5 separate regions of the Homo sapiens genome follow, and regions 2, 3, 4 and 5 are each linked to region 1. Evidence: fine-mapped expression QTL. A gene starts in region 1. Each other region holds a variant in brackets. All regions are shown on one strand. Distances are from middle to middle.

Region 1 (5,915 bases):
AGGCCTCCCTTCCACTTACCTCGCCCACTGCGGCCCACGAAGCGAAGGTCGTTGAACCTGGCCACCTGGTTCTTCATGACGGCCGAGGCATTGCGCAGCTCAGCGGAGTAGTTCTCGTCATTGCCTGCCATCACAGTCACCACCGTACCATCCGGCACGTCCCCCAATGCCACCACCTGAAGACACGGGGCGGGGGGATGCAGGGGGACAGCTTAGAAAGGAAGAGGGTGACCAGGGAAAGGAGGGGAGGGGCTGGGCTGGGCAGCTCCCCCAGGTCCCAGGCACACTGAGTATTTCTCCAATGCAGGGTGGAGAAGAGGCTTAAAAACAATAAAGACCTTCCCCCAAATATCACGAAAACAAGAAGATGGAATCTCGAGCTTCCACACCAAAATCCTAGATCAACTGCTTACATAAACTGTGTCCCAAGAAATCATCCTTTCAATGAAATCTAAGCCAGAGCTGTGAATCAGCTCAGTCACTATGATGTGGGGTGCAGTTCCCCTGTTGTCTTCGGCTGCAGCGAAAGAGGAATCAACATGCTCCTAGCAACGAAGTCTCCAAATGAGAAAGAGTAACAACAATAATAACAACAGGGCTGCTACCCCCACTCAATTTATGCAAGAGCTGTTTAGGGCATGAAATTTGGCCCTGAAATGTGGACCAGGCCCAGTTTATTGGCCTCTGCAGAGCCTAAATTCGTTATGCAGAGAAAATGCAGAATGCAAAACTCACTGGTGTTTTGAAAAAGGCCACCAGAAAACCCCTTTAAAGTGAGAGTGGGGCTTTTGATAATGGAAGGATGCACCTGCCGGGAATTGCAGGATGGGGGTGGCGATGTCCCCCTAAACACCATCTCCCCCAAATCCCCCACCCCCAGGAGCACGGAGAGGCGGATGCCTTTTGAAAAAGAATCAGACTTTAAACAGAGTCACAACTATTTAAACGTGGCCGCCGCGTGCAGGGACTGGGGATCCATATGGTAAAAATTTCAAGGAGAAAATGTTTGGGATCTGATTAAGAAGACCAGATTTCCTGTCAACATCCTGTCTTCTTTTAATTTCAAAGACTCCTTTTAAGCTCCAAGTGACAGTAAAACCTCCGATCTGACGATTAAAGTCACACGGGCCTCCCGCCCCTCCCGGCGAGATTTCCCCCACTGGTATTTTAAGATGTCACCCGGGAGACCTCAAAGAGCCACTCTTCCTTTTTTTCCCATTTAGAGTCGTCTTAATGGGAGCAGGGACGGCCTCAGCTTCCAGCCACCTCGGGCAGCACCACCCCCAGCCGCCGGCCCTTCCTGCCCTGCCCTTTTCTCACGGCAGCTGTGAGAGGTTTAGGGGAAAACCGAGGCGTTTTCGTTTCATCTCGCTGCCCCCTTAAAAAAATGAAAATGAAACAGTCGCCTACTCCCTGGCATAAAGAAAAAGGTCCTCTAAATGGCTGGGGGCTGCCAGGGTTAGGGGTCCCCCAATCTCAACTCGCCATTCGGGACGCATAATATCCCCGAGCAAACGTCTGGAGAGCAGTGCCCCGATCCCGGCCTAGCGCCGTCCGGTAAAATTTCGGAAGCCCGAGGGTGTGAGCAGGAAGCTTTTGCGAAGCGGCGCGGGAGGAGGGGTGCTGGAGGCGGAGGGTAGGCCCTTTCACCGTTCGCACCCCACCCGCGGTGTCCTTGCCCCTGTCCCGGGATCCTCTTCTCCGTTACCCGCAGGGCTGTATCTGAGCGATCCGGGTTAGGGGGGCGCAAAACCCCATCCGCCCATTTCCGCACCAACGTCTCTACGCAAGGCGCCCCAAAACCCAGGTGGAGCGGGGCAACCCCGTTAAAAGTCATTCCTGCAGGGCGCATCCAAAACGGAACGCCGAGGTCCCGGAGCCGAGCGCGCAGCCAGACTGAACCGGGTGCCCGGGTGTCGCCGCGGCGTCTCGGGCACCTCCCATCCCCACTGCTCCCGAGGCTCTGGCTCCCGCAGCTCAGACGCCCGGAGCCCCAGGGCCGGCGCCCTCCCGCCCCGGGTCCCGCACTCACCTTGAAGGCGACGGGCAGCGTCTTGTTGCAGCGCCAGTGCGAGGGCAGCACGGAGCAGAGGAAGTTGGGGCTGTCGGTGCGCACGAGCTCGCCTGCGTGGTCCGCCAGCACGTCCACCATCGAGCGCACCTCGGGCCGGGCGCGCCCTCCGGGCCCCACGGCCGCCTGCGCGCTCAGCGCGCCGCTGTTCTCGCCCATCTTGCCGCCGCCGCCGCCGCAGGGGAAGGCCGGGGAGGGAGGTGTGAAGCGGCGGCTGGTGCTTGGGTCTACGGGAATACGCATAACAGCGGCCGTCAGGGCGCCGGGCAGGCGGAGACGGCGCGGCTTCCCCCGGGGGCGGCCGGCGCGGGCGCCTCCTCGGCCGCCGCTGCCGCGAGAAGCGGGAAAGCAGAAGCGGCGGGGCCCGGGCCTCAGGGCGCAGGGGGCGGCGCCCGGCCACTACTCGCCAGGGCCCGCCCGCTGCGAGGCCTCGCTGGCCCGACGGCCGCCCGCAGCCTGCCCGGCTAGTCCCGCATCCTCGGCGCGCGGCCCCGCGTGCGGCCGCCCCTCGTGGCTGTCCCGGCTGCCTGGGCCGCGGCGGGGCCCGCGCGGGGCTGTGCCGCTGCCGCCGCCTCCCGCCCCGAAGCTCGCCCGCGGCCGCCCCGACTCCGCGGCCGCAGCCCCAGAACAAATCCTCCAGAATCAAGTGGCGGGGCCGCGGCCGCCCGCGCGGGGTTAGTACCCCCGGGGCCCGCGGGGCGGGGCTGGCGGAGCGACGCGTCGCACAGCCAATCGGCGGAGCCCCCATCGCGGGCACCTCGGTGGCGTTCGCGGGGAGGAACGGGGCCTGCCGGAGGCCGCCCAACGGGGAGGGGCGGAAGGCGCCACCCCGCGGAGGAGGCCCCAGTGCCACAGCCCAGGGCCCCCGAGAGCTCTGGGAGCCCGGGGCAAATGCTAGAAATTTGCTTAGAACGTCCGGGTCCCACGGAAGGCGCCCTTGCCGCCCTCTCTCGGGTCGTAGCTCCCTGACGCTGGGGCGCAACCCCTTCGCTCCTCCTCCCCGCTGGCCGCGGCCGGGCTTCCCCAGCTCTTGCTGCTTCGGGCCTGTGACTTCTGCAACCCCGGGCTGGGGGCCGCGGGGTCTCAGGGCCGGTGACGCCGCACTGGGAGCCGCCCCAAAGAGGTTACTCACCTCCCTCGTCCCGCACATTATTCTGACCCAAGAGCCTCCACCCCACACGGGATTTTGCGCGTCGTCCACGCCCGGCCGGCGGCCTTTGCTGCTCCCAGCCCTGCGCGGCTTTGGTCCCAGCCTCGGTGGCCCCTGTGCCAAACCGGGGACAGGCGGAAGGGAGTCTCCTAGGGACCCTAAGTAGCCTGGGGCCAACAACCCCTTTCCTCTCTGCTCTCCCCTCAAAACAAGTTTCAGGATCTTGCAGGCCTCGCGGCGTCGTTCTTCGTTGTGGCGGCCTGTGGCTCTTTGAAAAACACGACGAGGCCTGCAAAATGCGTTTTTCTTTTTTTCCTTTACGCATGTAACCACGGTCCTGCATCGTGAAACGGTACGCGCGTCGGTGGCAAAAGAAAAACAGCAGTGGCTGCAAAGCTAAGGGCCCTCGCTTTCAGAGGAGAGAATTTTCTTTCTCCATGCGGGTGGAAAGTGGCCTCTGCGGGTCCAACCCCACTTCTTCTTGGGCCCGTGCGCTCCGGCTGCGCCGCAGGGACCGCGGACAGCTTCGCCAAGGCACTGCCTGCCCGCCCGGCTCCGGGTCCCCGCTCCCACTCCCAGCCGCGTGGCCCAACCTCTCCTGGGCTTCACTGCAAATCACCCCTTCCTCTCCCGCCTCCTAAGTCTGTCGAGCAGACCTAGGGGCCGGCTACAGTTGGGAGGGCAACGGGAAAGATCAAGCCACAATCATTCCGAATTATCGCCCCAGACACCTCCCTAGACTCTGGGGAACGAACGCGTGCTGAGCCTCCCCGCCGCTTTGGAGACGGGGCTAGATTTTCGTTGCCTCCGGCTCTCGACAGGTGCAAAACAATGAATTCCAAGCCTCGGAAGCAAAGAAGCTTAGGATCCGACGGTGGCCGCAAGATCTCATCATGGATCTGACCCCTGCTCAGCGCGCGCCATTTCGTCGTTGCCAAACGAAATCAAGCCCCGCGTGCGCTCCAGGGGCGAAGGACTCTGGACTCACCCCGACCACCGGGAGAGCTGGCCCCTACCCACCTCGGGACCTCACAGCACGCCCTCAGGCCGTGTCGAAAGGAAGGACGGCAAAGGTCCCTTACTGAACCTTTTAAGAGAGCCTGCGCCTGGCAGTTGTCGATTGCGGACCCAGGCCCGCGCGCCCTCGGACGCGCTGGCACGAGCAGCAGAACTAGAGGAAAGCGAGTGATCCAGCCTGGGCGCTCCCACCTCCGGGAACGTCTCCGAGAAGGCGCAGCGCGTCGTGGCCAGGTAGGGCCCTGGCCGGGGGCGGGCAACACGTGCTGCCCTCGAGCAGGTTGCGGGACCATGACCCGCTGTTTCAGGTGGTGGTAAATTCCATTTGTCGAATGGTTTCGGTTTGCACCGTGCCCTTTGCTTGTTCCTCCGCCTGATTTCTCCCTCTCCGCTTACGATGGGTTCACAGACAAGTTTCCAGAGAATGAGGGACTCTTGTGGGCCCTGGCACCTGGCGCAGGGCCCGGCACGGCTCCGGCTCTCCGTAGGGCGCTGGCTCCCCGTGGGCACCAGATCCAAGGGACCAGGGCGGCGGGGGGAGGGGGGGCGGGTGCAGGCCCTTGGGTCCCCAGACCAAGGTCGCGGGGCCGCCTGGCAGGCACAGTGGCGGGAGCCGCCGCTAGTTGGCGCCCGCGCCCTGCCAGCCGCGGAGGTGCGGGCCCGGCCGGGCTACAGATGCGCGCCAGCTGCGGCCCCGGGTGCAGGCGCGGCGACCGCCCCCGAGGAGCTGCCCTTTCCTTGCCATCCATGCGGCCAGGTCTCAGACAAACCGATGGCTTTGTGTCAAACCAAGGCCGCCTTCCTCACCTCTGATAAGATGGACGCCTTCTGTCTTCGCGTTTTCAGGCACCCGGGGAAGACCCACAGAACAGGCTAGCTTGTTCCCAATTTCCACCTGCTTCCTCCCCATCCCGGACCGACAAAAATTGTCGTCTGTTTGATGGGAGGGAGAACTCCGACTCCCCCACCTGGGGCATGCAGACACCCTCGCCCTTCCCCAGTTGGCATGGACCGTCGTCTTTTCTCCCTCTTCCATCAGATCGATGGACAAACAGGCCAGTTTCTCCCCAGTGGCCCCCACCTAAGAGCACCCTAAGTTGTCCACAGCAGGGCTAGGAAGCAGAAGGTCAGGACACTCCCCTACCCTACCTTGACTTAGAGCTGGGTAAACCCAGAACCCATCCCCGGGCAAATAGAGCCAGCTCCTTTGCCCCAGGAAGGGGATTCGTCTCCCTCTGGCATTTAGGAGTGCTCTCTAAGTGCGTTCTTGGCAGTGAGGGTGCCGCCTTCCCAGGGCAGGTGTGATTCATGTGGACTCTGTGGCGCCTGGGCAGGGATCCCCAGGTATACCAGACAAGGGGCAGGTGTGCCCTGGGAAACCGCCTAAGAGGTCCATGGGCTATGGAAGGAGCTGGGGTCCACAGTCCCTCTGCCTGAGCGTGTCTTTTTCCCTCACCCACAGCGCTCTAGGGAAAGTTGCCTAAACCTCTCTGAGCCTCATTTCTTTCATTTGTAAAGTGGGGCACTCATAGTGGCCCTTCATAGAATTGTGTGTAAAGTGCTTAGCACAGGCCTGGCACATGGAGGGTGCTCCAGCCTCCGGGAGCCATCACTGTCATGAAAAAATAAGACCTCTCAATCCTTGCTGGGGGCCTTTGACCCACCCCTCCTCTCTCT
Region 2 (5,915 bases), 41 kb before region 1:
ATTTTCCAGCCTGAACTAGTGGTGTTCCTGTCCATAGCTGGGATCCAGGTTTGTTGCCTCTGGGTGGGGCTACAGCTCCTTACCTCCTGGAAGGTTGTGGAAGTGTGGTTTCCTTTTTCTCCTTTCTCTTGTGGAACATAAGCATCTTTCCAAGTCCTTCTGGCCAGATGATGATGGTGTGAGCCTGTCCGTCTCCCATCAGTGCTGAGGGGCCTCAGATGCTGCCTCTTACCTATAACCCAGATGCTCCCAGGTGTGTTTATTTCCTAGAGCTGCTGTGACACAGAGCCACAAACTGGGAGGCTCAGAACAACAGGCATTGTTCCTTGCACAGTTCTGGAGGCTGGAAGTCCAAAATCAAGGTGTTGGCAGGGCTGGTTCCTACGGGAGGCTCTGAGGAAGAATCTGTTCCAGGCGCTCTCCTGGCTCCTGGTGGTTGCTGGCAATCCTTGGAGCCCCTTGACTTGTAGATGCATCACTCCAGTCTCTGCCTTCATCTTCACATGGCGTTCTCCCTTTCCCTCTGTCTCTGTGTCTTCTTCTCCTCATCTTATTGTCATATTGGATTAAGGGCCTACCCTGCATCAGTATGGCCTCGTCTTAGCTAATTTCATCTGCAGTTACCCTATTTCCAAAGGTCACATTCTCAGGTTCTAAGAAGTACATGAATTTTGAGCAGGATAATGTATGGCCCAGTGCACCAGGCAATGCCAAGGGCATCACTAGGTAGGAGGCTGGAGATGACTCCATTTCTGTGAGCTCCTCCTTGGCTCCTCTGTGTCTTTGCTTCTAACAGCCTGTGCCTGCCACTCTCTCTCGAGGGCTCCCCTTGAGCTATTAGAGGGGCTTTGTGTGCACAAAATTCAGACACACACACACACACACGCACATGCACATGCACACACACATGCACACATGCACACACACACACATATACACACACACACAGAGCCAGAGTGCCTGGATATTCGTGACCCCTGGAGCTGTCTTACCATGGTGATGACTGACAGGTGGGCAGGGCACGGTGGCTCACACCTGTAATTCCAGCACTTTGGGAGGCCAAGGCAGGTGGACCACCTGAGGTTAGGAGTTCAAGACCAGCCTAACCAACATGGTGAAACCTTGTCTCTACTAAAAATAGAAAAAAATTAGTTGGGCATGGTGGCGCATGACTGTAACCCAGCTACTTGGGAGGCTGAGGCAGGAGAATCACTTCAACCTGGGAGGCGGAGGTTGCAATGAACCGAGATCACGCCATTGCACTCAAGCTTGGGCAACAAGAGTGAAACTCCATCTCAAAAAAAAAAAAAAAAAAAAAAAAAAGGAATGACTGACAGGTGCACATGCAGAAGCATAGAAGCCCAGATCCCTGGCCTGCAGTTGGGCACAAACTCTGAGGTGTAACTTATACTCCGGAGCCCCCCACAGGTCAGTTTCAACTGGCCTCACCCTCCATGTCTAGCTCCCCCTACTCTGACACTGGCTTGTCCTGGGAGTACTTCCTTAAGAAATCACTTTCATGTGAATTCTCTTCTCAAAGTCTGCTTCTGGGCAGCCCAAGCTGAAACAGATCCCCATACCTGGAGCCTGCTGCAGCCAGGACTGATATGCAGGAACCCAGCCCAGGGAGCCACAAAGGGATCCACCTCCCCGGATCCAGGGGTTCATGATTCATGGGCGATGGTGCTCTGTAAATGGGAAGGCCCTCTGTGAACACTGGGGTGTTTGCCACGCATTGTGCTCAATTGTCCCCTCTATGGGCGGGCCTTCCCCAACCACACCATCCAAGATATTCTAATCTTGTCCTTTCAGGCTGCTGATCAACTAGCTCAGGAGTCACTGTGGACATGTCACACTTCTTCCTCCATGAGATGGAGATGACCAAATCTATTCATAGTTCTGTGTGCCAACCTATGAACCAGACCTGAGCCCCTTACCCCTCTGACAGTCGGCTTCAGGAAATCGCCATGAGGCTACAGGTGTGTGTTGAGGGGTGGGTAGAGACACAACATAAGTGGGTGGCGTGGGGTCTGGCACACTTCTTCATGTAACCCACTTGTACCTGCTGGACCTGCCAGTCTCAATCCCAAATATCACTGTAGCATTTCTCTTTTTTTTATATTATGACAAATACTTATTTATTTATTTATTTATTTATTTATTTATTTATTTTTTAATTTTATTTTAAGTTCCAGGGTACATGTGCAGAATGTGCAGGTTTGTTACGTAGGTAAATGTGTGCCATGGTGGCTTGCTGCACCTATCAACCCATCATCTAAGCATTAAGCCCAGCATGCATTAGCTATTTATCCTGATGCTCTCCCTCCCCACGCACCTCCTGAAAGGCCCCAGTGTGTGTTGTTCCCCCACCGTGTCCTTGTGTTCTCATTGTTCAGCTCCCACTTATGAGTGAAAACACGTGGTGTTTGGTTTTCTGTTCCTGCATTAGTTTGCTGAGAATAATGGCTCCCAGTTCCATCCATGTCCCTGCAAAGGACATAATATCGTTCCTTTTTATGGTTGTATAGTATTCCATGGTGTATGTGTACCACATTTTCTTTATCCAGTCTATCATTGATGGGTATTTGGATTGATTTCATGTCTTTGCTATTGTGAATAGTGCATTGTAGCATTTCCATTGTACAGTGGGTTACTGCTGTGCCTGCCTCACATTAGGATTTGGTGGATCTGGTCATAGCCAGCTCACAGAGGGAAACTCAGCCAGCATAGTTGCTTGATGTCTCATGGTCAGGCTCTGAGTCTCTGTAGGGTTCAGTAGCATGCCAGCAATTGTTTTTCAAAAGGAGAGTAGTTCTCCACTGCAGAAAATTTTAGAGGTCTGTACTGGGACTCTTCTACTGGG[G/A]TTTGTTAAAGGCTCCACCCAAGTTCTTTATCTAGCACCATAAATCTTCTCAGTCTCATGGCTAGCAGAGCAGCTCACACTGCAGCTTGGACCTATGCAGCGTTCTCTTTTGCTTTGTCTCAGAACTGAAAGCTTTCTGAATTGCCTAATAAATAGGTCAGAGTAGCATTCCCAAGTGTGGTATATGCTGCTTTGAAATTCAAGGAGAACAAAGAAGGTGGGCATAAAACAACAGAAGGACAGTTTCTCGCAGCTGGGGAGATCAGAAGTCTGAAACCAAGATGTTGGCAGGGCTGACACGGGCAATACACGAGGCCCGTGTATTGCCTCTTCCTGCTTCTCTTGGCTCCAGACATTCCTTGGCTTGTGGCTGCATCACTCCAATCTGCGTCTGTGGTCACATGGCCTCCTCCTCTTCCCTATGTGCCTCTGTTCTGTATGTCTCTTATAAGGACATTTGCCATTACATTTAGGACCTGCCTGCATCATCCAAGATTACCTCCCCATCTTGAGATCCTTAACTGAATTACATCTGCAAAGATCTGTTTTCCAAATAAGGTAATATCCCCATAGGTTCTGGAAATTAGGACATGGACATATCTTCGTGGTGGGGTGGGGGGGTGCTTTTTCATCCTACTGTATGGTAGAGGTGCAAATGCAGCAACTTGTCTTTTTTTCTGAGAGGGGATGGCTTGGCATGCCTCAGATCACAGGTTCCTTAAGATCTTCATCAATACGGGGGACCCTGAATTTTCAGAGGCTTTATCTTCCACTCTCTGGTGTGCATACATTTTTGTTTTGTTTTGTTTTGAGATGGAGTCTCACTCTGTCACCCAGGCTGGAGTGCAGTGGCACGATCTTGGCTCACTGAAACCTCCAACTCCTGGGTTCAAACCATTCTCCTGCCTCAGCCTCCCAAGTAGCTGGGATGACAGGTGCCCGCCACCATGCATGGCTAATTTTTGTATTTTTAGTAGAGACAGGGTTTCACCATGTTGACCAGGCTGGCCTCGAACGCCTCACCTCAGGTGATCCACCCACCTCAGCCTCCCAAAGTGCTGGGATTACAAGCGTAAGCCACTGTGCCCAGCCATATATTTTATTAAAGCATCTTGGGTTCTTGCCATTTTTCCTCCTTAGGTTTAGAGCAGCAGGAGCATGGGAGCAACTGTCCAGTGAAGGGGGTCTGTTGAGAGGCTCACCCACAGCATCCACTGCAGTGTCCTTGATCATCTTGACACCCCACGCTACCACCCAGGTCCGTCATGTTAACATTGTGTGAGCATTGGCTGCAAACTGCTCACATCTGCCCCCTTCTCTGGAGAATTGCTCTCTGCCAAACAGTAGACATCTCACCGTGGAGGTTATGCTCCTTTGGGGGTGTGGCAAGTCTTGCCAACTGACTTACCTGAGGACACAAAAAGTCTGCTATCTGGAGGGGACAAGTCAGTGCTGTAATTAATGCTCCAAAGGCCCTCATGAGACCAGAATGAGGCTGGCCTCCAGCCCAGGGATGTCATAGATTAACTTTCTTTCTCTGCTGTGTCCTGCTTCCCTCTTTCCACTTCCCCTGAAAGTCCTCCCCACAAAAATCCCCACCTCTTGATCTGCTTCTAGGGAAACCTGACCTAAGAGATTCCTTGGGTGTATTAGTCTATTCTCACGCTGCTAATAAAGGCATACTCGAGACTGGGTAATTTATAAAGGAAAGAGGTTTAATTGACTCACAGTTCCCATGGCAGGGGAGGCCTCACAATCATGGTAGAAGAGCAAGGAATGTCTTACATGGTGGCAGGCAAGAGAGGATGAGAGCTAAGTTAAAGGGGAAACTCCTTATAAAATCTCGTGAGATTTATTCAATATCACAAGAACAGTATGAGGGAAACCACCTCCATGATTCAATTAGCTCCCACTGGGTCCCTCCCACAACGTATGGGAATTATGGGAGCTACAATTCAAGATGAGATTTGGGTGAGGATACAGCCAAAACATATCATTCCCTCCCTAGCCCCTCCCAAATCTTATGTCATCACATTTCAAAATCAATCATGCCATTCCAACAGTCCCTCAAAGTCTTAACTCATTTCAGCATGAACTCAAAAGTTCACAGTCCAAAGTCTCATCTGAAACAAGGTAAATCCCTTCTGCCTATGCACCTGTAAAATCAAAAGCAAGTTAGTTACTTCCTGGATAAAATGGGGGTACAGGGATTGGGTAAATACAGCTGTTCCAAATGGGAGAAATTGGCCAAAACAAAGGGACTACAGGCCCCATGCAAGTCCAAAATCCAGTGGGGCAGTCAAATATTAAAGTTCCAAAATGATCTCCTTTGACTCCATGTCTCACATCCAGGTCACACTGATGCAAGAGGTGGGTTCCCATGGTCTTGGGCAGCTCTGCCCCTGTGGCTTCATGGGGTAGAGCCTCCCTCCTGGCTAATTTCACAGGCTGGCGTTGAGTATCTATGGCTTTTCCAGATGCACAGTGCAACCTGTTGGTGGGTCTACCATTCTGAGGTCTGGAGGATGATGGCCCTTTCTCACAGCTCCACTAGGCAGCACCCCAGTGGGGACTCTATGTGGGGGCTTCAACCCCACATTTCTTTTCTGCACTGCCCTAGCAGAGGTTCTCCATGAGGGCCTCACCCCTGCAGCAAACTTCTGCCTAGACATCCAGTTACATCCTCTGAAATCTAAGCAGAGGTTCCCAAACCTCAATTCTTGACTTCTGTGCACCCACAGGCACAATACCACATGGAAGCTGCCAAGGCTTGGGGCTTCCACCTCTGAAGCCACAGCCTGAGCTGTACCTTGGCCCCTTTTAGATATGACTAGAGCAACTGGGATGCAGGGCACCAAGTCCCTAGGCTGCACAGAGCAGTGGGGCTCTGGACCCCAGCCCATGAAGCCATTTTGTCCTTCTAAGCCTCTGGGCCTGTGATGGGAGGGGCTGCCACAAAGTCTCTGTTATGCCCTGGAGACATTTTCCCCATTGTCTTGGCGATTAACATTTGGCTCCTCATTACTTATGCAAATTTCTGCAGCAGGCTTGA
Region 3 (5,915 bases), 87 kb after region 1:
GAAAGCATCTAGTCCAGGAAAGTCCAGGGGTAAAGCCCACTGCAGCCTCCCCATTTTCCTAGGAGCAGGTGACCAGCTGAGGCCCTGTTCCCGGAACGGTCATCCCTACTATTTTGACACAGGCTTATCAAGTCCTACCTCTGCATGTGCCAGAACTTTACACAACCAGGACAATTAATCCTCCCAAAAATGCTGTGCAGGGAAGGCTATGATTAACCACGGACAGAGAAACTGAGGCACAGAGCAGTGACATGGCCTGCCCAGGCACACGCAGCAGCAAGTGGCGCACAGACACCAACCTCAGTCAGTCTGACACCTGCAGCCACACGCGTAACCCCCATACTCTGGCGAAACTTCAGCGCCAGAGGGGCCCTGACACAGAGTCTGGCCCAGGGACCCTCAACCCCAGCTGTTCAGTTGAATCACTGGGAAGAGTTTAAATGGTGTCCATCCCAGAATCAATTAAGTATATGTTTCAAAAGATCCCCAAGCTGGGCGTCGTGGCTCACACCTGTAATCCCAGCCCTTTGGGAGGCCGAGGCAGGCAGATCACTTGAGGCCAGGAATTCAAGACCGGCCTGGCCAACGTGGTGAAACTATGTCTCTATTAAAAATACAAAAATTAGCTGGGGATGGTCTCCTGTGCCTGTAATCCAGTCAGGAGGCTGAGTCAGGAGAATTGCTTGAACCCAGGAGGCGGAGGTTGCAGTGAGCCGAGATCACACCACTGCACTCCAGCCTGGGTGACAGAGCGAGACTCCATCTCAAAAATAAAACAAAAATAAAACTAATAAAATAAAATAAAAACAAAAATAAAAATAAAAGATCCCCTGTGTAGCTGGGACTGAGAATCACTGATGGGACCAAGCCTCTCATTTTACAGGTGGGATGACAAAGGCCCAGAGAAGGCAAGTGATGTGTTCTAGTCCGTGATACTAGACCTGGCTCTTGCAGTCCCTCTGACACTTTTCAAGGTCGGTGCTGAATGAATTAATTGCATCTAGTCGGTCAACCTGCTGCCCACCTTCAGCCCTGGCCCCTGGTCGCCCCAGGCCACAGCTCCTGAGCCCCCAGCCTGATTTCTTCTCCACGTTAACTGGTGCCTCTGCATTCAGAGACACAGGGAAAATCCACCAGGGGGAATGGTGGCAGGTGTGGGATGGCTTTGCCTCTGTCTCTGTGGGTTTTTCTTCCTCTTACCTCTCATGAGATGGCCTAGGAGGTGAAGAGAACAGTGTTCCTGGTGGAATGAGGACAGGCTGCACTTCTGCAAAGACTCTGGGGTGAGGGGGCTGGCGCGGAGGCTGAGACATGCTAGGGCCCCCTAGCCTGGGCTGTGTGAATGAGGCCAGTGGCACAGCACGGGTGCACTTGGCTTGGTGCTCAGTGGCCAGGCTCAGACCTCACCACTTCCATTTGCGTGTTAGGTGAGTGCATCCCTAAGCGCCCACCCTGATGGTCACCTGACTCTGGGAGGATTAGATGAGAAGAAGCCTGAGGGGGCTTCCCACAGGCCCGTGTAAATGCTGGCTATAATCACCAGGCACTGTCCCTGGGGCAGCCGTGTGCTTGCAAGTCCCCTGTTCTGGACTGTTCCCACAGCACTGTACGACTGTGGCCAAGTCCCTTCCTCTCCCTAAGCCTCAATTTTCTTCTCTGTAAAATCAGGGGTGATGATTTCTAGGGTCCCTTCCTGCCCAGTTGTTTGCGGTTATTTTTTGTCTGTTTTTAGAGAGTGCGATGTTGCAAGGTTGGGGCAGACAGAGTCAACAAGGACAGCACCGGCTGGGCACAGTGGCTCACGCCCGTAATCCCAGCACTTTGGGAGGCCCAGGCGGGTGGATCACTTGAGGTCAGGAGTTCGAGACCGCCCTGGCCAACATGGTGAAACTCTGTCTCTACTAAAAATACAAAAATTAGCCACGCGTGGTGGCGCACACCTGTAATTCTAGCTACTGGGGAGGCTGAGAAGGGAGAATTGCTTGAACCCAGGAGGCGGAGGTTGCAGTGAACCAAGACCATGCCACTGCACTCCAGCCTGGGCAACAGAGTAAGACTCCATCTCAAAAAAAAAAAAAAAAAAAAAAAGGAAGAGCAGCGCCCGGTTATCTGACCCTGGTGCTTAGGCACAGTCCATCAAGCAGTGCCAGCTGTGTTCCCATGCCAGACAGGCATGGAAGGGGTCTCCAGCTGGCTTCTCATTTCCGCACTGTGGTGTCTCCTGACCTGGGGGCCCTGGGGCCTGAAAGCCACTTCTGTCGGATCATCTCCGGCTCCCATTGGTTAAACCCCTACTGTGTGCCAGGGCCCAGGGTGTGCTGTGACTTGCTCAGCACTCTCTCAGGGTGGCCCCTGAGTCTCTGCATTTTGCCACACACTGCCAGACTTGGCTAAAATAATACTAAGGCTACCTTTTATCAGTGCTTCTGGGAATCTATGGTGGTTGGTTAAAAGCATGAACTCAAGAACCAACCTGTCCAGGTTAAGTCCTGGCTCTGGACAGTCCATCGTCAGCATCCCCGCCCCACCCGTGCAGAGCGGCCTTTCTCCTGTCCTCCAGATGGTTCCCTTCCCATCCTGTGGGGTGAGATGGGGCTCTGAGCACGGGTGGAACCCAGCACTGGGGGGCAGATGGTTCTTCTGGCCCCTTTAGG[T/C]GTCAAGTCAGGAGGGGGATGACTTCCAGTGGCTTCTCCCCAGAGGAAAGAGATGGGGTTGTCCTGGGGGCACAGGGATGAAGGGGGAGGGCTGCACCAGGCAGAGGTGGGTGTGAAGAGGACTTCATGGGGTCGAAGTGCCCCAGCTCCTGCCTCTGTAGATCCAGAGCCCCCGTGCCCAGCTCTTCCCTGGCCCATCACAGCACGCACAACCCCCATCAGCGATTCTGTCCTTTGGGTTTCGAGTCCATTTTTATCTTCTACAGCCAATTCACTGCATTAAACTCCTCAGCCTTGACCCTGGTCACAGACCAAGCCCTCATTGCTGACATATAGCCCCGGCCACACACTGAGCCCTGACCCTGGTCTCAGATGGACCCATAACCACAGCTGGAGTTCCGACCCCAAGCAGCCACTACAGAGATGAAGATGCAGGGCTGCACAGTCCCTGAGGCCAGCCTGACGGGTCAGAGTGTCATCCCGCATTGGTTCCAGGATCCACACCACAGAGCCCCCACTGGCCATCTGGAGATGTGGCACCTCCCCACTGTGTGGCCCTGGATACATCCCTCTGCTTGACCTCAGCTCCCGCCTCTAAATGAATGGATGACATCGAGAGACTTCCTGACTCAGAGCTGGTGACCTAGAAACTGTGAGGTACTCCTGGGGGTGTGGGCTTCAGGTTGTTCCCAGCTCTCACAGCCCTGGGCTAAATCCTCTCCACTCTCTTCCCAGCCTCAACCTCACAGTCCAGTGGTTAGGAACAGCCCCTGGGGCCGCATCCTAGCCAAGGGGCCTCGTAAGTTTCCTAGCCTCTTGGAGCCTTGTAAGTTTCCTAGCCTCTAGGAGCCTCAGTCTGCTGTCTGTAGGGTGGGGACTGTGGGTGTTGGGAACTCAGCGCAGGCCACGCGTGGGATGCTGTCAGAGCCAAGCCCAGCATAAGCAAAGGGTCAGGAAGTCAGAGCCAAGCACACTGGCCTTCCACAGGGCTCCTGGGCTTCGCTCAGCTCCAGTGGAGATTGAAAATACTGTAATTCCTTTTTCTTCCCTTTCTCATTGGGGACACTGAGGCCTAGAGAGGTCAAGCCCCGTGCCAACAGAGTGGGGGAAAGCAGAGCCTCATGTCCCTCTTCTCACCCCACCCCTAGCCTCCTTTGAGCTCCATGAGCCACCAGAACTCATCATAGCCCCAGGCAGGTCGCCACCCTTCCCTGAGCCTCTGTTTCAGCTTCTGTAAGAGGAGGGAGCAGGACCAGTGGGATATCTCCTGAGGACACCTCACTGCTACTGAAGAGGACAGGAGCATGCTGGGGTAGGAGGTCAGGTCTGCATGGCAGGCCTTCAGAAACCTCTGGAATGTGGGTTTGAAAGTTTGGGGGCTGCTCTTGCTACAAAGGTTCCCTGTTCTCCCCTCCTTTCTTTCCATGACATTTCACCAACTGTTTCTTCCCTTAATCCAAACCATCGTTTTTCCAGGGTGAAATTTAAATCAAAGCCACATGGCTCCCCCAACACACGTGTCCTTGCCAAATGGAAGCGTGTTCTGGGGAAACAGTAATGACCCTGCCGAAGGGGATTCTGACCTCTCCATGGGGCCCGCCAGGCAAGTGCTATGTGGCATTGAGAAGACCTGGGGGCTTCAAGTTGGCCCAACTGGGGTAGGCTTGGAGGTTTCCAGGCCCAAACATGGCTCCGCCAGGAGCAGAGGGTGAGCCTGAGTTCCTCCACAAGGAGGCCAGGAGGCCTTTTCCAGAGCCAGGAGCCTTCATCCTATGAGCCATGGATATGGGAGGTGCCTGAACCCCTGGGGTCCATCTGGGGAAGGGGTTTACACGGTCCTCCCAGTGAGGCTCAGTCATTGATATGACTTGAAGCATGGTGGTGGTGTGGCTGTATGAGAAAGAGACCTGGATTTGGAGTCTTGTTTGTGTCTGATTCTCACTCACTTGCTGTGTGACCTCGAACAAGTTCCTTAACTTCTCTGAGCTTCAGTTTCCTCATTGGTAAAATGGGGCTTCAGCTAGAAGCTCTCTCAGTGGTAACCATGATGCAGGCGAAGGGCCAGGGCCCAGGAGCTGGCGCACAGTGGAGCTCACAAAAGCAGCTGGGGGAACTGTGCAGAAGTGAAGCGGGGGCCTCAGAAAGGAAGGAGGGAGACGCCAGGCCTGGCATTGCAAGAGGGGCTGAAAGCAGTGGTGGGAGAGAGGGCAGACAGGGAAATCTGGGCACTGTGTGCAGCCCCCAGATATGAGAGGAAGCCCCTGAGTGGAGAGTCATGAGACTTTGGAAGGGGCAGAAGGCTTTACTGAGGGGAGGGGCATCCAGGGAGGAGGGGCCTGGAAGTCCCCAGGGGCCACTCTGCAGGGGCTTCCCTGGGCCTGGTCTCTGTTTTACATAGTCTGGCACTCCCAGGCGGGCTCACAACTTGGAGTCCTGGTTGGGGAGAGGGAGTCAGGAGAGCAGGAGGCAACCTCCCATACCCGCCATACACCAATAATCAGACACCCTCACTCCGGACCAAGCCTGGACACCTGTGGGGTGAGCACACTCATAGCTATAGGCCCACAGACTGAGAAGTACATGCAAATGGCCACATGCCAGACCCATATGCAAAACACAGACCCAGACAGGCCATGCACAGACCCACATTTCCACACCGGGGCCAGACCCGCATGCAGGAGTGTGCAGGCATGTGGATGCGTGCACACACACTCCCGCACATACATGCCTGCACACACACACACCTGCACACATACACATGCCTGCACACACACACACCCCTGCACACATGCATACATGCCCACACACACACACCTACATGCCTGTGCACACACACACCTGCACACACGCATACATGCCTGGACACACACGTACATGCCCGGACACACACATGCCTGCACACACACCTGCGCGCACACACACCTGCACACACACATACATGCCTGCACACGCACACATACATGCCTGCACACACACATTCACATACATGCCCACACACACATGCACACACATACCTACCTGCATACACACACCTACACACACATACATGCCTGCACACACACATTCACATACATGCCTACACACATGCATACACACATACATTCTTGCATGCACACATCTGCACACACATACATACCTGCACACACATATTCACATACATGCCTACACACACGTGCACACACATACATGCCTGCACATACACATGCACATGCATGCCTACACACATGGGTGCACACAAACGTGAGCACACACATGTGCTGA
Region 4 (5,915 bases), 64 kb before region 1:
AGGAAAAGACATTAAAGAGGTTGGCCAAGATTCCTCCAGAGGAGAAGACATTAAAGAGGTGTGTGTGTGTGTAAATGAGTGCGTGTGCGTGTGCATGTGAGTGTGTATGTGTGAGACCACACTTGTACCAGGCCTAACTTCTAGGCCCCATGTGAGGGGATGGTGGGGTACAAGACAGTGAGGCCCAGGTGCTCCCTGAGGGTGACCATGATGCTGGGGAGCCCACAGGAGTGGAGCTCAGCTCCTGCCAGTGGCAGTGTCTCCCTGCTGCCCCTGGCCTCGGCCATGAAGGTTCTCCACACAGGGCTCTTCTTGGGACAGCTGGGATTGTTGTTGTCATTGTTGTTATTTTATTTATTTTTTTCAAGGCAGAGTCCCGCTCTGTCACCCAGGCTGGAGTGCAGTGGCGCAATCTCAGCTCACTGCAACCTCTGCCTCTTCAATTCAAGCGATTCTCTTGCCTCAGCTTCCTGAGTAGCTGGGATTAGAGGCACACACCACCCCGCCCAGCTAATTGTTTTGTATTTTTAGTAGAGATGGGGTTTTGCCATGTTGGTCAAGCTGGTCTCGAAATCCTGACCTCAGGTTATCCTCCTGCCTTGGCCTCCCAAAGTGCTGAGATTACAGGCGTGAGCCACCGCACCCGGCCCAGCTGGCGTTTTTAACCTCGTAGGTTATGTGTTCTCTTCCCCACCTCTGTTCTCCTCAGAACAGCTCCGTGTGTGTGCATATGTTTGAGCGTGCGTGTGCATGCATGTGTGTATACATGTGTGCATGTGTGTGTATGCGTGTCTGCATGTGTGTGCGTGTGTGCATGTGCGTGCATGTGTGTGTATGTGTGAGCAAGCACACATGAGTTTTCATCCATGTTGATCCGATTTCCCTGTTTCCCCTGACTCCCACCCCTAGACTTTCTGGAGTCGTCCTCGTTAGCAGCCCTCATGATTCATTGTGGGAGGGGGATTTAAAGCTGCTCATAAAACACCACTTCACTTTCTGTTTTCTTTTCTCCCCTTTCTTTCTCGGCCCCTTGGCTCTATAGCCTGGCTTTTTCCCCTGTGCTTGGCCAGATATGTAAAATAAACACATCCACTGTGCAGGAGGAAATGACCTTTGGGTTTTGGGGGCTCTCTTAATGAGGCCTCAGCACTGCTGACAGTTCCACGCTTCCCTTTTTTACCCTTTGACGTTCTGAGACTTTGCCCAGGAGCTGGCGTCTCAGATTTCAGGTGTCCTGGGCCGCCCAGTAAAGCCGTTCAGCAAGGCCAGGGCACAGCCCACACCCAGTTTCTCACCTGGCTTTACCCTGAGTGTACCTCTGTCTAGGGATCCCACTGGTTTTGTTTTTTTTATTTCTTTTTAGTAACAAAAGAAATCATGTTTGCTTGTCTCTAAAACTATAAGCAGCATAGAAATGAAGATCCCAGCCAGGGCGCAGTGGCTCATGCCTGTAATCCCAGCACTTTGGAGGCTGAGACAGGCAGATCACCTGAGGTCAAGAGTTGGAGACCAGCCTGGCCATCATGGCAAAACCCTGTCTCTACTAAAAATACAAAAATTAGGAGGGCATGGTGGCTCATGCCTGTAATCCCAGCTACTTGGGAAGCAGAGTAGGAGAATCACTTGAACCTGGGAGGTGGAGGTTGCAATGAGCCGAGATCGTGCCACTGCACTCCAGCCTGGGCGACAGAGCAATCTCCATCTCAAGAAAAAAAAAAAAGAAAAGAAAAGAAATGAAGATTCTTTCTCCCCTTTCCTCCCAGTGCTCTCCCCACAGGAACGAGACCTGCGTGGTGTGGGGAGCAGCTGAAGACTTCTCATCTGCCTTTGTGAATGCCAATTGTACACAGCCACTACTGGAATCTTACTCATCGCAGCAGGAGGCCTGGCTTCCGGCACAGGTGGAATGAATGAAGGAAGGAACGGATGAATGAAAACAATGAAGCTGTACAGAGCAGTCTGTCTCCGAGTGGGCAGTGGATCCTGGAAAACACATCTTCAGCCATCCAGAGTGGGAAGATCTGGATTTGGGATGTAGCCGCTTCCTCCCTGTGTGACCTTTGGCAGATGTCATTTACTTTTTGGAACTTCAGTTTTTCCATCCGCAAAAAGGGGATGCTGCCTGCCCAGTTCATGTCACAGACCTGTGAAGGTCAAAACAGAAGGCAGGAGGGAGCATATTCCATAAAAGGTACAGCAGCCGGGCAGAGTGGCCCATGCCTGGAATCCCAGCCAAGGCAGGAGGATTGCTGGAGACCAGAAGTTTGAGACAAGTATGGGCAAAATAGCAATACCTCATCTCTAAAAAAAATTATTTAAAAAATCAGCTGGGGCTGGGTGCGGTGGCTCACCTGTAATCCCAGTACTTTGGGAGGCCAAGGCAGGCGGATCACTTGAGGCCAGGAGTTCAAGCCCAGCCTAGCCAACATGATGAAACCCCATCTCTCCTAAAAATAGAAAAATTAGCCAGGTGTAGTGGTGCACACCTGTAGTACCACTGCACTCCAGCCTGGGTGACAAAGCGAGACTCTGTCTCAACAAACAAACAAACAAACAAACAAAAAACCAGCGGAGCATGGTGGCACACACTGTAGTCCCAGATACTTGGGTGGCTGAGTGGGGAGGATGGCTTGAGCCCAGGAGGTCCAGGCTGCAGTGAACCACGATCGCACCACTGCACTCCGGCCTGGGCCACAGAGTGAGACTCTGTCTCTACAAAAGAAAATAAGAAAGGAAGGAAGGAAGGAAAGAAAAAAAAAATAAATAAAAATGAAAGATAAAGCATAGGGACGTCTCTGAGACAAAGAGCTGAGTGGAAGAATCAAGTTAGGACTCAGCAGCGCAGGATGGCGAGGCTTATAATTTTAATCCCCTCCTC[G/T]ATTTCTTTCGATGAGGCAAAAAACAGTCTTGGAAATTACTCACCAAACCAGCAGTGGGTGCCAGGAGCTCATTCACTTTGTGTGTCATTATAATTTTTTGTAACTAGAATGGATGGAGCAACCACTTTGGTAGTGAAAATATTTTAATATCCGCATGTGCATAAAGTGACACGAATAACAGTTCCCGTTTACTGGGCTCTGATGCTGTAGCAGGCTGTGGGGATGGCTACTGTGCTCATTTTACAGACAAGGAAACTGAAACCCAGGCAGGCGAAGTGGCTTGCCCAGGCTCACACAGCCAGAACGGGATGAAGCAGGTTCTGACCTCCAAGCAAGACTGACTCCAGTGGGGAATTATGGGTTCCCAAATGACACTGATCACAGCAACAACGGGCAGGACAGGACAGGTGACTCAGAGCAGACTCCTCATGCAAGGGGAGATGTTGCCCAGTGCCGAGGGCACCGGGGCAGGGTTCATGCCTTCCCCTGGGAGAGCAAGAGGTTCAGAGTCAGAAAGACTGGGGCTTGTGGTCCCAGCTCTGCCACTTTCTGGTTGTGTAACTTCTGCCAAATCCCTTCACCCCTCCGAGCCTCAATGTGCTCATATGCAAAAGGGGCGAGTAACCACCTACCTTGCAGGCTTGTGTGGACTGAGTGTGTTACGGCCATGAAAACACCATGTGCTCTATAAGGTGCGCTTTATTCATTCCTGAAGTGAGCATTTATCATGCACCCACGTTCATGCCAAGCCCTTCTCTGGGATCTGGGGAGACAGCAGCAAACACAGCAGATGAGGTCCTGGTCCCTGGAGTTACTTTCAAGTGGTTGGAGCCAGATAATCAACCGAGAAAGCCTGACACAGTTCAGACGGCGTTGAGTGCCGTGGAGAACCCACGCCGGACAGCGTGACGGAGCGGCCTCGGGGCTGGGCTACTGAGCAAGGGAGGGGCCTCTCTGACTTTGTGATGTCTGCACAGAGGCTGAGCGGTGTGGTGCAGGTCAGTGATGGAAAGCTGTTTATGGGAAGTGTCAAGGGATAGCCCCAAGGAAGGGAGGAGCTACAGCGGGTGAGGAACAGAAGGCTAGGGCAGGGAGAATGGGCAAGGGGCCCACCGGGCAGTGCCTGTGCACTAGAGGTGGTCTCTAGAGGTGGGAATGTCTTTGTGGACACGTGTCCTTTGCTTAGGACAGCGGAGAGAGGCTTCCAGGTCTGGGTGGGTGAGAAAGAGGGAGGAGCTGTCAGGCAGAACCATGGAGGTAGGTGGTAGGAGGTAGGAGGTAGGTGGGAGGGTGAGGCACCTGCTCTGAGCCCCTTCTCCCTGGGCAGGAATGGGGCATGTGGGCAGAGCAGAGGGAAGCAGCGGTGCAGGAATGGCCCTGACCTGCACAGATGTGGGAGGAGGTCCGCACGCCCAGAGAGGGGCTGAGATCATACCACCAGGGACCTGGTGTTGGTTCCACAAGAGGCTCAGGGACACACTTCCAGAATTTTGAGAGCACCCCTAGCAGAGGCAGGGACTTGGACTGGTTGACCTGGCTTTCCCACACCCTCAAAACCTCAAAATGTCCAATGTCCATCCACTGATCATGATGGGTCTTTCTAGAATGTCATTTTCTCCCCAGTGCAGTTGGTGAGAGGCATTCTCACCTCCTCCCTGGAGAGTGGGGTTCCTCCTTACCATTGCCTGGTGGTTGAGCTCTAGTCCTTCTGTCTGGCTGGCCGTGTAGCCTTGGGCAAGCCGCTCCATCTCTCTGTGCCTCTGTTGCCTGGGCTGTAAACAGAAGTGAGCTAAAGGCAGGCAGACCGAGGTCTGTGACCACGTAATAACTCATACTCAGTTCCAGAAATATTCACCCACAGAAGTGTCTGGGACAAGCCTGGAAGGCTGATCACACCAGCCCTCCGGGTGCTGCTCGTGGCTGAGAGAACAGAAGGGAGCCCTGTCCACCATGGGAAGCTGCTGTTTCCATCACCAGCCTGGGCTGTGGTGCAGAAAGAAGGAAGGGGAGTCTGGGTGGGGCGAGGGAGGCAGCAAAGGGCCTGGACCTTCGTGGGAGCACGGACACACAGGACAGCCATTGTCGAGCTTGGACTGACCCTACTTGGTGACGTTAAGTTCTCAAGCTCCAAGAAACAGCATCTGAGTTCTTGAGCTCAATCTTCCCACCAAAGAAAATCATACACAAGTCCCGGCGCAGGGGCTTCACAGCTCAAAGCATGGTCTGTGTCCACATTTCCTGTGGTGGGTCAGGCCCCACTGCAGTCCTGAGCCAGCTCTGCATTCCCACCAGAGCCCCAGGAGATCAGATGCGGGGTGAACTCTGAGAAGCGCTGCTCTAGGGCACAGGTAGGCTCATTGCAGCCTTGTCCCCAGCGGGAAAACGCGGTGGACCTGCAGCAGTCAGAGGCAAGGCACACTGCAAGCTCCAGGAACAGGCAGGACCCGAGAAACGTAGGTGGGTGGAAGCAGGAAGAAGGAGAACCCAGCGCAAAACTGATGATGCATATTAAAAACATGCACATGGCGGCTGGGCGTGGTGGCTCACGCCTGTAATCCCAGGACTTTGGGAGGCCGAGATGGGTGGATCATGAGGTCAGGATTTCGAGACCAGCCTGGCCAAGATGGTGAAACCCCATCTCTACTAAAAATTCAAAAAAATTAGCCGGGCGCGGTGGTGGGCATAGGGAGACTGAGGCAGGAGAATCACTTGAGCCCAGGAGGTGGAGGTTGCAGTGAGCTGAGATTGCACCATTGTACTCCAGCCTGGGAGACAGAGCAAGACTCAGTCTCAAACAAAACAAAACAAAACAAAACAAAAAAACATGCACATGGCAAAATGACATAAAGGAGAGTGTTGGGATGGTGGGAGCCGTATTGTGTCAATGTGAACTCTCCTGAACGTGGTTATTGTTCCTGGTTATGTAAGAGCAGCTCCTTGTTCTCAGGAGGCCCACGGGGAATGGTCCTGACATGTGTAGGTACTTCTATATGGCTCAGCAAACAAAATTTATGCAGATACTCAGAGAGAACCCCT
Region 5 (5,915 bases), 100 kb after region 1:
AGACTGAGGGCAGCCACCAGCAAGGTGAGTTTGTTCCTCTCCTCTCTGCTGGGCCCTTTGGGTGCCCCTAGGCTCTGCGGCGGGCACTGGGGTTTGAAATATGGGCAGAAAAGATGAAGGCTTCTTTCCTCCCATTCTCCCAGTGCGCACGCCTCAGCTGGCTTCCTCATTCACTCGTGTTCACTCGGCAAACATGTACTGAGCACCTCTGGGGGGCCGAGTGCCTCTGGGCCCTGCAGCTCGCCTGAGTCCTCATCCGAGTCCGCACCCCACCTCCGTCCTCTGCAGGTCCCCTTCTCTCCCTGACTCTCCTCCGCCACCCTCATCAGCCCCAGGGCTCGGGGAGCTGGGACAGAACCCAAAGAGAGATGAGCTCGTGGTCTCAGCTGTGAAGTTGGCTTTGGTTTTTCGGTTGCAAATCACACCCATATTAGGAACCGGCGGGAAGGAAGATGACTGCGCCAGAGCCTGTGTTTTCTGGAAACACCGCAGGGCGGTGAGAGGTTTTCCAGGCCCTGCCTCAAGCCAAGAGGCAAGATTTGAATCACTGAACTGTCATGAGGTGTCTCCCAAGTCCTGGGTCCAGCATTGCTCCCTGAGAGCACCAGGAAGTAAAATGCCCTCAACACAGAGGTCCCCTGAGACCCACAGAGAGCCCACGAAACACTCACCGAGCGCCGACTTGGCGCCAAACCCTTCCCATTCACTTGGCCATTTAATTTTCAAAACCTGTTGTGTGACAAGTGGTGACTCTCACTCCACAGAAAAGGAAGCCACTCCACTCTTGAAAAGGATGCCAAGCGGCACCCCCGCGGCCACACAGCCAGCAGCCCAGATCTACCTTCTCCAAAGCTTGGCTCTGAATTGCGAGGCTGCAAAGCCCCATTCTCCTGGTGCCCATCTTGCCCAGCCCAGCAGCGGGAGCCCTTCTCAGGGAAGAACCTGTTGCGAGGGGAGAGGCGGAGCTGTCGCTGATGGACGGAGCACAGCTCCCCACCCGCAGTGGGTACTCAGGAAATGTCTGTTGACAAACAATCCTGTCTTCATAAAAACAAAACTGGCAATGCAAGTGCATAAAAGAAAAATACTGGAATGAAATGCACCCAAATGTCACTATTCTAATGAAGATGATAAGGAATGTGATTTTCTTGCTCTTTCCTGTGCTTATCTGTATTTTCTATATTTGTTGCAGAGAAGTTAAAAGAAAAGAAAAACCGTAAAAGGAAAGCCAAATGCCTCCTCCAGAGCTGTCTGACAGGGTTTTGGGGAGAGATGGTCTGGGGAGGCTGCAGTCAGCAGTACAGCCCCCGGGGGCTGTCAACAAGCAAGAGAGGTCAGAGACCAGTGGCCCTGGCTGGCCTCCCTGGTTGACCCTCTTAGAATCAGAAGATACCACTTTGAGCATCTTGGGGTGCAGGTGATGAGGGGAAACAGTAACTTTGGGAGCAAGCAGTCAAGGATGAGGATTTGGGGGTCAAGAGACCTGGGAAGCCCAGCTCACCATCTAGCCTAGAGTGTGCCCTGCGGCAAGTCATTGTTCTACTGAGCCTCAGTTTCCCCATCTGCAAAGTGGGTTTCTGGAAGGCTATCATGAGGACTAAATGAGGTCATGCATATGGAACAATCAGCCAGTCCTTAGCATGCAGTAAGTGCTCAAATAAGGGTAGCTCTTGGTCATTCTTCTTCTTCTTCTTTTATTTTTTTTTTTTTCCTGAGACAGAGTCTTGCTCTGTCACCCAGGCTGGAGTGCAATGGAATGATCTCAGCTCACTGCAGCCTCCGCCTCCTGGGTTCAAGTGATTCTCCTGCCTCAGCTTCCTGAGTAGCTGAGATTACAGGTGCATGCCACCACACCTGGCTAACTTTTTTGTATTTTTACTAGAGAGAGGGTTTTGCCATGTTGGCCAGGCTGATCTTGAACTCCTGGCCTCAAGTGATCCACCCGCCTCAGCCTCCCAAAGTGCTGGGATTACAGGCATGAGCCACTGCGTCTGGCTGTTTTTCTTCTCTTCCAGTCCCCATGGTCATTAGGTAAAGCCTGGCCTTGGCACTCAGGCTGGAAGTTGGCTAGAGGGGATTTGGAACTAACCCCCTTGGTGTAAGGTGAAGAGTCTGAAATTTAGGGAGGGGAGGAGGTAAGAACAGAGTCAGACTCCTCCCTCCGCCACACCTTGCTGCTTCCAGCCCTCACTGTTCCAGAGCAGAAAGTGTGGGGTTTAGATGCTCCCGGGGACCTGAGATCCATGTCAGTCCTCCCAGTGTGTGGTTCTAACACCTTCCTCAGTGTGGGCCTCTCCCTGTCCTCCCACCCCACCCAGCCCCACCCTGGCCAGTCTCAGGACCTGTGGAAACCAGGAGGACCAACCAAGTTCTCCTTCTCACTCTCTGTCTGAGTCAACCCCACCACACCATGGAGGTGACTCAGAGGAGACAAAGCCCCAAACCACACCCCATTCACGGTTTGGAGGGGAGCCTCACTCCAGGGCTGGGTTTCCCAGGGTCTGTTCTGCCCTGCCAGACACTCTCAGGCTCCCTAGGAAGAGGAGGATGGAGACTGGAGAGATGGAGGGATGGAAGGATGGAGGCTGGAGAGATGGAGACTGGAGGGATGGAGGATGAAGGGATGGAGGCTGGAGGGATGGAGGGATGGAGGCTGGAGGAATGGAGGCTGGAGAGATGGAAGGATGGAGGCTGGAGGGATGGAGACTAGAGGGATGGAGGCTGAAAAGATGGAGGGATGGGAGGGATGGACGCTGTAAGGATAGGGGCTGGAGGGTGGAGGCTGGAGGGATAGAAGGATGGCGGGATGGGAGGAATGGAGGCTGGAGGGATGAAAGGATGGAGGCTGGAAGGATAGAGGCTGGAGAGATGGAAAGATGGAGGCTGGAGCAATACAAGGATGGAGGCTGGAGGGATGGAGGCTGGAGGGATAAAGGAGGAAAACAAAGAGCGGGAGGGGTCTGGGCACTAGGCTAGGGCCTCAGCTGCTGGGCCTGTACCATGGCAGGGAATCCATGAATCCTGGAGGCATTTTTGGCTGGTTCCAAAGTCAGACAAAGTGTGAACCTCTCTCTGCTACAACCTTGGCCAGAAAGTCTGGTGCAGAGACGATGAGACACTGGGGACCCCCACTTGTTCACATTTGTTCC[G/A]TTGCTCACTTGTTCAAAAAACACGCGTGAAGCCCCTGCTTGGAGCCAGGCACTGGGCTGGGTTCAGGGTTTCCAGATGAATCAGGCCTGCTCCCCGGGGGACTCCCAGTCGTTCAGAAGAGAGACAGACATTGAAACAAATAATTAAAGACACGAATGAAAGCCTCTGAGATAAAAATACACAAGATCGGTGAACACAGAGAGAGTCACTGAGACAAGCTTAGGGTTGACCCTAAGCTTGAACCAGAGGGAAAACTCAGACCTCCACCGAGTAGGATGGGCAGTGGGAGGCTGGGGTGCAATGATCCTGAAGGATGCTGAGGGACCCACCACTGCTCCCGTGACCTCCACCTGACGTTCCTCAGGGAAGTGACACCCCCTCCAAAATATGCAACGAGAGAGGCCCTGGGGAGACGCAGGCTTGGGTTTCAGATGTGGGCGATTCTCACACGGGCTGCAGATTCTAGGCCTTGGTCTGCAGCCCGCTCACTCCACGCCGCTGAGACTCAGTTTTCTCATCTGCCAAGTGAGAGTTCTGGATTTGGAGATGATTATTACAGCTAATATTTGCTGAACATTTACTGTGTGCCAGGCATCGCGCCAGACACTTTGCATCGGTACCTCGTTCAGCCTTCACATCCGCCCAGTGAGGTAAGTGCTATTAATAGCAGAAGCCTCTTATCCAATGAGAGCAAAACCAGTGGTTGGTTAATAGAAAAAAAAATTAATGCAGGAAATCATATGATACATAAAGTAGGCATTTTATTGAACGTAACACGTGCGCGTGTACTTTTATGAGATGATCTTCTGATGCAGGGCCAAGGCTGTCTTTGAGACTGAGGCCCCCAGCTGGTGTCCTACCTTGTTTTTCTTGCATAAAACCAACCTGTGCAGCAGCGTTTATGGCTCTCATTAGGAGTCCTTTAAAGCGGAGTGGGACCTTAGAGATGCTTGTGAAGCCATCTGAGCACAGACTCCCTAGACTCCCTCTGGATTTTTAATAATCACCCCCTCCCTCCAGTTTTAGTCTACACCTAATTCAATGAAAGTTTGTGACGGATTTTAACTATTGTCTTCCCCAGTCTTTTATGGCTGTCTTGCCCACACCTCATTTGGCAGCACTTTTTTTTTTTCTTCCGTTGACAACTCGCCTATAACTGGGCCTTTGCAAAGTCCTTTCTTGGTTTTCTGTGACACGACTCTCTTTCCCATTCACATTCTGGTCTCCCTGGTTCGGCCACTACAGCCAGCAGCTGCAGGTCTGGGAAGAAGCCTCACTGAGTCAGAGGAGCCGCCTAGGTGGGAATAGCAGCGGCCGGCCTGCCTGGAACATTCAGGAAGCTGTGGCATCTACTAGCCTCTCTTTCAAAGGACAGGGAGAGTGTTTGTTAATCCAGAGTGGGTTGAAGGGAGGTCTTGTAAGGCACTTTCTATGGTTTGATTCCCATTCTACAGGTGAGGAAACTGAGGTACATGAAGTCACTTCCCCAAGGCCACCCTAGGCTCGTCTAGCTGGGATCTGAACCCAGGCCTGCCTGGCTCCACGTTCTTCATCCTCACACCCTGCTACCTCCTTGTTGCACCAGAGGGGGTCCCTGTGCAACCCAGGTCTGGCTTTCCTGCTGGAAGGACTTAAAGGATCTCTCTTGCATGTGGAATTTGAGGTGCATTTAAACATTGTCCACACTAAGCCTGGTACGGAAGATGGCCACCGATCTTGGGGCAAGGTCTTCTCCCTTGGTCCTGTGTCTCCACGCCCAGGCCTGGTATGCAGCAGGTGCTCATGAGTGTCAGGAGCTGGACAGGAACAGTCAGGATGCCTTTTGTGTTTCTGCCAGTGTCGCGAGCACCTGCTCTGGGGCATGCACCAGGCTGGGTTCCAGGATCTAACAGGAAGGAGAAGCTGGTCCCATCACTGGCCTCAGAGGTCAGTGTCTAGCAGGGTCATTCCATGTCCCCTCGTCCAAGCCTCCTCTGGTCAGACTTCCTCTGAGGGGACAGGGGGTTGTTAAATATGCAAAGGATGTGGATTTTGGAGTCAGACACATCTGAGCTCCAATTACAGCTCTGCCACTTATTGGCTGTGCGTGTAACCTCAGACCGATGGCCACCTCTCAGCCTCGGTACAAACGACAATGCCTCATTCTAGGCCCTTGGTGGGCAGACCCCCAGCAGGGCTAGGAGTCCCTTGAGCCCCAGGGAGGAGGAAGCCCGTAGGCAGGAGGGGTTCGGCTGTGGACAGGGGACCTGGCAGTCAGCTCCCAGAAGCTTCCGACCGTTGGTGGCTGTGGAGAGCGAAGCGGTATGCAGGGGAAATGAAAAGAGGCCAGACGTCGTCCAGGCCGCAGCACGCAAGGGCACCTCACTCCGCTCCTTCGTTCCCTCCCAGGCTCAGAAAGGGGAAGGCAGCCCAGACCAGGAAGTGGCCAGCTTCTGATGGCCACCGCATGGGGACCGCACCAGCCCCAGCAGGAAGTGGCTGGCCCCTTCCCACCCCCTGCCGAGCCAGGCCCTCCTGCACTCACACTTGGGAACCAGCCAGCCTGAAAGTCCCTGTTCTCAGGTTCTGGGACCAGCACTGCATTCTTAGAAGCCTGGGTCCGGCCGGGGCCCCTGATGTTGTGGCTGGGGGTCCACAGACCTGGGTTCTCAGCCCCGCTTTGCCACTTCCTCGCCCTGAAGCCTCAGCCAAGTTGCTTCCCCGTCTGGACCTGTTCCTCGTCTGTTAAATGGGGTGATCACCCACCACCCGCCGCCTCAGAGGGA

The links. PIP is the estimated chance that this variant, and not a neighbour inherited with it, causes the effect.
Region 2: its variant is the best candidate, but not a certain one, in a credible set for the expression of RUNX3 in whole blood (TOPMed, PIP 0.79).
Region 3: its variant is the best candidate, but not a certain one, in a credible set for the expression of RUNX3 in whole blood (INTERVAL, PIP 0.51).
Region 4: its variant is the best candidate, but not a certain one, in a credible set for the expression of RUNX3 in whole blood (TOPMed, PIP 0.79).
Region 5: its variant is the best candidate, but not a certain one, in a credible set for the expression of RUNX3 in whole blood (TOPMed, PIP 0.53).

The regions. Positions count from the first base shown.
Region 1 is chr1:24,927,555-24,933,469 of GRCh38, forward strand. It overlaps RUNX3 (RUNX family transcription factor 3), which reads right to left and starts at 2,722. Exons shown (of 5, transcript NM_004350.3): 1 at 2,033-2,722; 2 at 20-176. The coding sequence starts at 2,314. It overlaps RUNX3-AS1 (RUNX3 antisense RNA 1), which reads left to right and starts at 2,903. Exons shown (of 4, transcript NR_183341.1): 1 at 2,903-4,472. RefSeq lists enhancers at 928-1,662, 1,311-1,490, 1,663-2,396, 3,836-4,425 and silencers at 1,961-2,400, 2,601-3,070, 4,741-4,960.
Region 2 is chr1:24,886,635-24,892,549 of GRCh38, forward strand. No RefSeq gene overlaps it. Among named protein-coding and RNA genes, the nearest start is that of MIR6731, 30 kb to the right of the region's middle. The variant G/A (reference allele first, on the strand shown) is at 2,864.
Region 3 is chr1:25,014,399-25,020,313 of GRCh38, forward strand. No RefSeq gene overlaps it. Among named protein-coding and RNA genes, the nearest start is that of MIR4425, 6.1 kb to the right of the region's middle. RefSeq lists enhancers at 4,625-4,734, 4,825-4,894, 4,935-5,094, 5,052-5,915. The variant T/C (reference allele first, on the strand shown) is at 2,655.
Region 4 is chr1:24,863,468-24,869,382 of GRCh38, forward strand. LOC105376876 (a long non-coding RNA gene) reads left to right here. Exons shown (of 3, transcript XR_947082.3): 2 at 1-58; 3 at 1,764-2,271. Among named protein-coding and RNA genes, the nearest start is that of MIR6731, 53 kb to the right of the region's middle. RefSeq lists an enhancer at 2,828-4,027 and a silencer at 5,722-5,915. The variant G/T (reference allele first, on the strand shown) is at 2,879.
Region 5 is chr1:25,028,571-25,034,485 of GRCh38, forward strand. No RefSeq gene overlaps it. Among named protein-coding and RNA genes, the nearest start is that of MIR4425, 8.0 kb to the left of the region's middle. RefSeq lists enhancers at 1-491, 444-533, 994-1,063, 3,352-3,561, 4,102-4,151 and 2 more and a silencer at 2,546-2,595. The variant G/A (reference allele first, on the strand shown) is at 3,150.